2 linked regions of the Homo sapiens genome follow. The protein of the gene in region 1 interacts with the protein of each later gene in a pairwise test. Each region holds a gene or a part of one and is shown on either strand. Other genes may lie near its edges.

Region 1 (3,759 bases):
GATTCGGTTGTCAGTGATTTACTTCAATTAAGAGATCTGTTAAAAATCAACTCCTAGTACCATAAAACAATCTGGAAGCTACTTTAATATTAGTTTTATTAATTTATTTAGAGATGGGATTTTGCTATGTTGCCTGGGCTGGACTCCAGCAATCCTCCTGCCTCAGCAGAAGTAGCTGGGGCTACGGGTATGCACCACCTCACCCTGCTTATCAGTTTCGTTTAATAGAATATTTGACTTTTAGATGCGCAGATCACTACGAGATGGAATCCTGCTAGCTGTGCTGTCTTTCCATCCGGGTCACGCCCGAGAGGCACACAGCCCAACTCCTTGCTGAGATCTTCATATTCCGTGTCCTACTGACGGGCTGCCTGGGAGACATGAGTGACAGAAAACCTGACACTGCTCTGGATTCTGAAACACCTGCTGAGCTCTGTCCTAGGTCTCTAATCCACAGCCTCCCGACTTCTCTCAAACAAGTTACCAATTCTACATACAATTATACCTCAGTTCACTTTAAAATGTACTATGGCTACAATCACCCTTCCAACAGGAACACACAGGAACACATCACATTTCAAAATACTTGACATTCAGCAAAATAAAAACGTAATTGGAATCAGTGCTCACCTTTATGTCTGCTCTGTATTGGTTCAGATCCCTCACAAATGAAAGCAGTTGGCTGTTGTACCTCTCATAGTCCAGGTTCAATTCAACATCATGGGTTAGTTTAATCACGAACTGACCAGCGACCTCTGCAGCTGCTCGTGCCACTTTGTTCAACTCAGGAATCCTCTCAATCAGTTCCTTATAGGTGTCCATGGTGGTACCCAAATAAGGATAATCTGTGTCCTGCAAGACAACGCGAGGCTATGGTACTCACGTGAGTTCTAAGAGCAAGAGCCTCACATTCTGGCTTCGCCATCGAGGTAACAGTGACGACAGTTCCACCCTTGCTTCTAACATATTCCTACCGCAATTTACCCCAATTCTATCTCATTATCTGCTGCTTTAAGTACATTCTTGCTACTTCTCTCAAGCTAACCTACTCCTAGAGTGACTACTTTCTTCCAGGTTCTACAGAATCCCTGTTCTATCGTATCATATGCCCTGAATAGACTTCTAGCCAAATTCCTTAAGGCTGTATGTTTTTCTCTCTGGGAAGTTTGGGCCTTTATCAATGAAAAAAGAGAAGATACATGAAACATACCTTGAGACGAGGTCTCTCTGTCACCCAGGCTAGAGTGCAGTGATGCAATCACGACTCCCCACAGCCTTGAGACAAGGTCTCTCTGTCACCCAGGCTAGAGTGCAGCAATGCAATCATGACTCCCCGCAGCCTTGAGACAAGGTCTCTGTCACCCAGGCTAGAGTGCAGCGATGCAATCATGACTCCCTGCAGCCTTGAGACGAGGTCTCTCTCTGTCACCCAGGCTGGAGTGCAGTGATGCAATCATGGCTCCCTCTAGCCTTGAGACGAGGTCACTCTGTCACCCAGGCTAGAGTGCAGTGATGCAATCACAGCTCCCCGCAGCCTTGAGACGAGGCCTCTCTCTGTCACCCAGGCTGGAGTGCAGTGATGCAATCATGGCTCCCTGCAGCCTTGAGACGAGGTCACTCTGTCACCCAGGCTGGAGCGTGGTGATGCAATCATGGCTCCCCACAGCCTTAAGCTCCTAGCTCAAGTGACCCCCCTGCCTCAGCCTCCCAAGGAGTTGGGACTACAGCTGGCCACTGGGCCACTTAATTTAAAAAATTTTTTGTAGAGATATAGTCTAGGCACGTTACCCAGGCTGGTCTCACTCCTGGCCTCAAGTGATCTGCCCACCTCAGCCACCCAATGTGCCGGAATTATAGGTGTGAGTTACTGCACCCAGCCTGAGGAAAATACTGTTCAGCTGGACTGTCCAATAGATAGCCACTGCTCAATCACTCAAGAAATTCAGCCTTGGTTTTTTTTTTGTTGTTGTTAGACGATCTTGCTCTGTTGCCCAGGCTAGAGTGCAATGGCACGATCTCGGCTCACTGCAACCTCTGCCCCCTGGGTTCAAGCGATTCTTCCACCTCAGCCTCCTGAGCAGCTGGGATTATAGGCATGTGCCACCATGCCCAGCTAATTTTTTTGTATTTTTAGTAGAGATGGGGTTTAACCATGTTGGCCAGGCTGGTCTTGAACTCCTGACCTCAAGTGATCTACCCGCCTTGGCCTCCCAAATGCTGGGATTACAGGTATGACCCACCACACTCGGCCAAGCCTCATTATTAAAACTCATAAAGAAGTTTTAGCAATAAACTCAAATGCTAATTAAGCTAATTGAGATTAACAAGTCTATGTTAAAACTAATAATGAAGGAACATGCAATAATTACATGTGTATAACTTTTTTTTTTGAGACAGGGTCTTGCTCTGTCACCCAAGCTGCAGTGCAGTGGCTCCATCTCAGCTCACTGCAACCTCTGCCTCCCAGGTTCAAGCGATTCTCCTGCCTCAGCCTCCTGAGTAGCTGGGGTTACAGGCACACGCCACTATGTCCGACTAATTTTTGTATTTTTAGCAGAGACGGGGTTTCACCATTTTGGTCAGGCTAGTCTCAAACTCCTGACTTCGTAATCCGCCTTCCTTGGCCTCCCAAAGTGCTGGGATTAAGGGAGGAGACCACCCCTCATATTGTCTTATGCCCAATTTCTGCCTCCAAAGAAAGAAGAAGTAAAAACTAAAAGGCAGAGGTGGACAGCCCAGCGCTGCCGCACCCTGGTCCTGGTTAAAGATCGAGCCCTGACCTAACCAGTTATGTTATCTATAGATTCCAGACATTGTATAGAAAAGCACTGTGAAAATCCCGTCCTGTTCTGTTCTGTTCTAATTACCGGTGCATGCAACCCCCAGTCACGTACCCCCTGCTTGCCCAATTGATCACGACCCTCTCACGCAGACTCCCTTAGTTGTAAGCCCTTAAAAAGGTCAGGAATTGCTCACTCGGGGAGCTCAGTTTTTGGAGACGTGAGTCTTGCCAAAGCTCCCAGCCAAATAAAGCCCTTCCTTCTTTAACTCGGTGTCTGAGGGGATTTGTCTGCGGCTTGTCCTGCTACAGGATTACAGGCGTGAGCTACCACATCCAGCACATGTGTATAACTTCTTAAAACATTTTAAGCACTGCAGTAAATTTGGTCTCAAAGTTGACACAAGAAGATCCATGGCCAGGTGTAGTAAGTAGCTCTTGCCTATAATCCAAACAGTTTGGAGGCTGAAGGGGGAGGACTGCTTGAGGCTGCAGTGAGCCATGATCGGGCCACTGCACCCCAGCCTGGGTGACAGAGCAAGTCACCATTGTCAAAAAAAAAAAAAAAAACAAAACAAAAAACAAACAAAAAAAACCCAACAACTAAGATATGTGCAAGTTGTCAAAATCAAAATGGAGTCACTAGTGTTAACAAAAATGCAACCCTGAAGAGAAGGGTCTCACCCTTGTATGTCTGATAACAAGGATTAAGGGTTTTTTTTTTTCCTTTTTACAAAAACTACAACCTTACACAAAGGCCACTGCAACCTTGCACCAAAAAACTTCTCTCGTGAGAAAATCTGCCTAGCAACTGCCTGTCAACCTTGGACTGGTGTCATCCTTGTTATTGATCTTGGTAGCCAAGAATAATTACCTCAAAGTAATTTTGTAATCCTCGTCATTTGTCCTTAAAAACTTGTTTTCCTTTACTCCTCTGAATATGTACATAGTTGACTATAGCACAGGCATTCCCATTGCAA
Region 2 (3,759 bases), on another chromosome or scaffold:
ACAATGGGTGTCGTGACTGTAAGATTTTCCATAGTCCTCAAATCCATCCAGCTGCTCAATCCTTCAGAAACTGACACTGTAATTGTAACTGAAATCCTATCCATGATGTAGACTTCAGATTTCTCAGCTGATGCACACTGCTGTTGGTACTCTATGGCCGAATATAAGTATTATACATGTCCTGTGGTTTATCCTTAGATTGTCATTTAGTAGAAAGGTCTCAAACTGGGCTTAGTGCTGTGAAATCATAGTCCCAGCTACTTGGGAGGCTGAGGTGAGAGGATCGCTTGAGCCTAGGGTTCAAGACCAGCCTGGGAAACATAGGGAGACCTCATCGCAAATAAATAAATAAATAAATAATAAATGTTTCGTTATATAGGAAAACAAACATGTAAAGTTTGTTCTTAGCTGCTGGTAATGTTGCAACCATAACTCCTTACTGAACTATAACACTTAAAATTAGTTACCATGGTAAATTTTATGTTATGTGTATTTTTTAACACAATTAAAAAAAAACTTCTGTCTTCCTAAAGTTCAGTGTAGTTGTCATATATTCTTACAAGTTTTTACTTTATATATTTTCAAGACATAACATTTGTAGAAAATTTGCAAGAATAGTACAATGAACTCATATACTTTTCACCTAGATTCACCAATTGTTAATAGCTTCTGCTCCATTGTTTTCATGTCTCTTCCCTCCCTCTCTTACCCTGCTGCCCACACACTCACACACACACTTACGGATATTATGTTTACTCTTATTAATGCTGCATTGTTCAGATAAGGTTTCAGCTATTATGGCCCTTTACCCTAAGTACTTGAAAGTGTTTATATATCCTCAGAACAAAGAAAAAGTCATTCCTTGGATAATCACTGCACAATGATCAAACTCAGGACATTTAACAATGAGAACCTGCAGTCATTTAATACACAGAGTATACTCAGATTTTGCCAGTTATCCAGATAATTTTCTTTTTTCTTTCTTATTTTTTTTTTTCAGACGGAGTCTCACTCTGTTGCCCAGGTTGGAGTGCAGTGGCAAGATCTCGGCTCTCTCTAAACTCTGCCTCCCAGGCTCAAGAGATTCTCATGCCTCAGCCTCCTGAGTAGTTGGGACTACAGGCAATGGCCACCGCACCTGCCTAATTTATTTTTTCTTTTGTATTTTTAGCAGAGCCTGGGTTTCACCATGTTGGCCAGGCTGGTCTCTAACTCCTGACCTCAGATGATCCGCCCACCTCGGTCTCCCAAAGTGCTGGGATTCCAGGTGTGAGCCACCACGCCCGGCTGGCTGATACTGACATTTTTCAAGAGGATAGACCAGTTGGTTTGCGGAACGTTTAGCACTTTGGGCTTTTTTGTGTAGTTTCTAAAGACTGTTTTTTCACTCACCATTTATTGGTGCCTACTCATGCCATATAACTTGCTAGGTGCTAGGAGTCTAAATGCTAATGAGAGACAGGATGTCAGCCTTGAGTCATTTAATATAATAAGGACAATCAGAAATACAATAACAGATAAGTGCAAAGGAGGCAACAAAGTTGTCTGAGGGCAGTCTTCAGAAAGGAAGAGGGTAATATTTGGAAAACCCTGTTTTCCTGTCTTCTGCCAACAGACTCCTGAAATAATGTTCTTGGGATTCTTATCAACACATTTATTATTACAGTACCTAAAGCTTTTATTTAATAAGACCAAGAGCATGAATATTATTTTCTTATTCATATTTCATGTGTTGCTGCTTAAAATGATAATTTTGTTTTATCTTTAAGGGCAGGAGCCTGAAGCTGATAGCCAGGAACTGGTTCAGCCAAAGACTGGGTGTGAGCTTGGAGATGGTCCTGATACCAAGAGGGTGTGCCTGCGAAATGAAGAGCAGATGAAACTGCCCGCAGAAGGTAGGTAGTCCATTAAGCATGCAAATTGTAGGGTGTCTGTTTCCACAGTATTATAATTTTCTTTTTTTTCTGAGATGGAGTCTCACTCTGTCACCCAGGCTGGAGTGCAGTGGCTCAATCTTGGCTCACTGCAACATCCACCTGCTGGGTTTAAGTGATTCTCCTGCCTCAGCCTCCCGAGCAGCTAGGATTACAGGCGTATGCCACCACAGGCACCTAATTTTTGTAATTTTAGTAGAGACGGGGTTTTGTCATGTTGCACAGGCAGGTGTCGAACTCCTGACCTCAGATGATCCACCCAGCTTAGCCTCCCAAAGTCCTGAGGTTACAGCCCTGCCACAGTGCCTGACAAATAAATGTTTCTTTTTTTTTTTTTTTTGTATTTTAGTAGAGACGGGATTTCACCACATTAGCCAGGCTGGTCTTGAACTCCCGACCTCAAGTGATCTGCCCACCTTGGCATCCCAAAATGTTGGCATTAAAGGTGTGAGCCACCATGCCTGGCCCAGATAATTTCCTTTATAGAATTTCTTTTTCTGATCCAGAGTCCAGTTCAAGATCACGTCTTACATGTGCTTGTCATGTGTTTCTAGTTTCCTTTAATCTGGAATGTTTCCTTAATTTTTCTTTGTCATTCAGGATACGGACATTTTTGAAGAGGATAGACAAGTTGGTGTGCAGAATGTTCAGGATTTGGGGATTTTTCATGTATTTTTTAAAGAACTTTTTTCACTCAGCGTTTATTGGTGGCTACTCATGCCATGTAGGAGTCTAAGTGCCAGGAGTGTAAGTGCTGTGAGAGACAGGGTTTCAGTCTTGAGTCATTTAATATGATAAGGACAATCAGAAGTAGAATAATAAAGAAGTGCAAAGGCAGCAACAAAGTTGTCTGAGGGCAGTCTTCGGAAAGGAAGAGGGTAATATTTGGAAAACCCTGTTTTCCTGTTTTCTGCCAACAGACTCCTGAAATCATGTTCTTGGGATTCTTATCAACACATTTATTATTACACTAGTGAAAGCTTTTATTTAATAACACTGAGAGCATGAATATTATTTTCTTGTTCATATTTCATGTTTTACTGCTTAAATTGATTATATATATACACATATATATGTGTATATATACACATATATATGTGTATATATACACATATATACACATATATACACATATATATGTGTGTATATACACATATATACACATATATACACATATATATGTGTGTATATACACACATATATATACACATATATATGTGTGTATATACACACATATATATACACATATATATGTGTGTATATACACACATATATATACACCCTATATATGTGTGTATATACACATATATATACACCTATATATGTGTGTATATACACATATATACACACCTATATATGTGTGTATATACACACATATATACACATATATGTGTGTATATACACATATATATACATATATATGTGTGTATATATACACACATATATATGTATATATACACATATACATATATGTGTGTATATATACATATATACATATATACACATATATATGTGTATATATATACACACATATATGTATATGTATATATATATATACACACACATATATATGTATATGTATATATATATGTATATGTATATATATATATATATATATATATATATATATATATTTTTTTTTTTTTTTTTTTTTTTTTTTTTTAAGGGCCAGAGCCTGAAGCGGATAGCCAGGAACAGGTTCACCCGAAGACTGGGTGTGAGCGCGGAGATGGTCCTGATGTCCAGGAGTTGGGCCTGCCAAATCCAGAGGAGGTGAAAACACCTGAGGAAGGTAGGCAATCCATTAGGCATGCAAATTGTAGGG

Evidence for each region. The genes of interacting proteins can lie anywhere in the genome.
Region 2: the proteins of TFRC (region 1) and PAGE1 interact in binary tests that used the Homo sapiens proteins (3 or more experiments, as listed by UniProt).

The regions. Positions count from the first base shown.
Region 1 is NC_000003.12:196,054,450-196,058,208, forward strand, and holds part of TFRC (transferrin receptor protein 1), read right to left. Parts: intron 853-3,759; coding exon 631-852; intron 1-630. UniProt on the Homo sapiens protein: Cellular uptake of iron occurs via receptor-mediated endocytosis of ligand-occupied transferrin receptor into specialized endosomes. Endosomal acidification leads to iron release.
Region 2 is NC_000023.11:49,689,385-49,693,143, reverse strand, and holds part of PAGE1 (P antigen family member 1), read left to right. Parts: intron 1-1,769; coding exon 1,770-1,895; intron 1,896-3,600; coding exon 3,601-3,726; intron 3,727-3,759.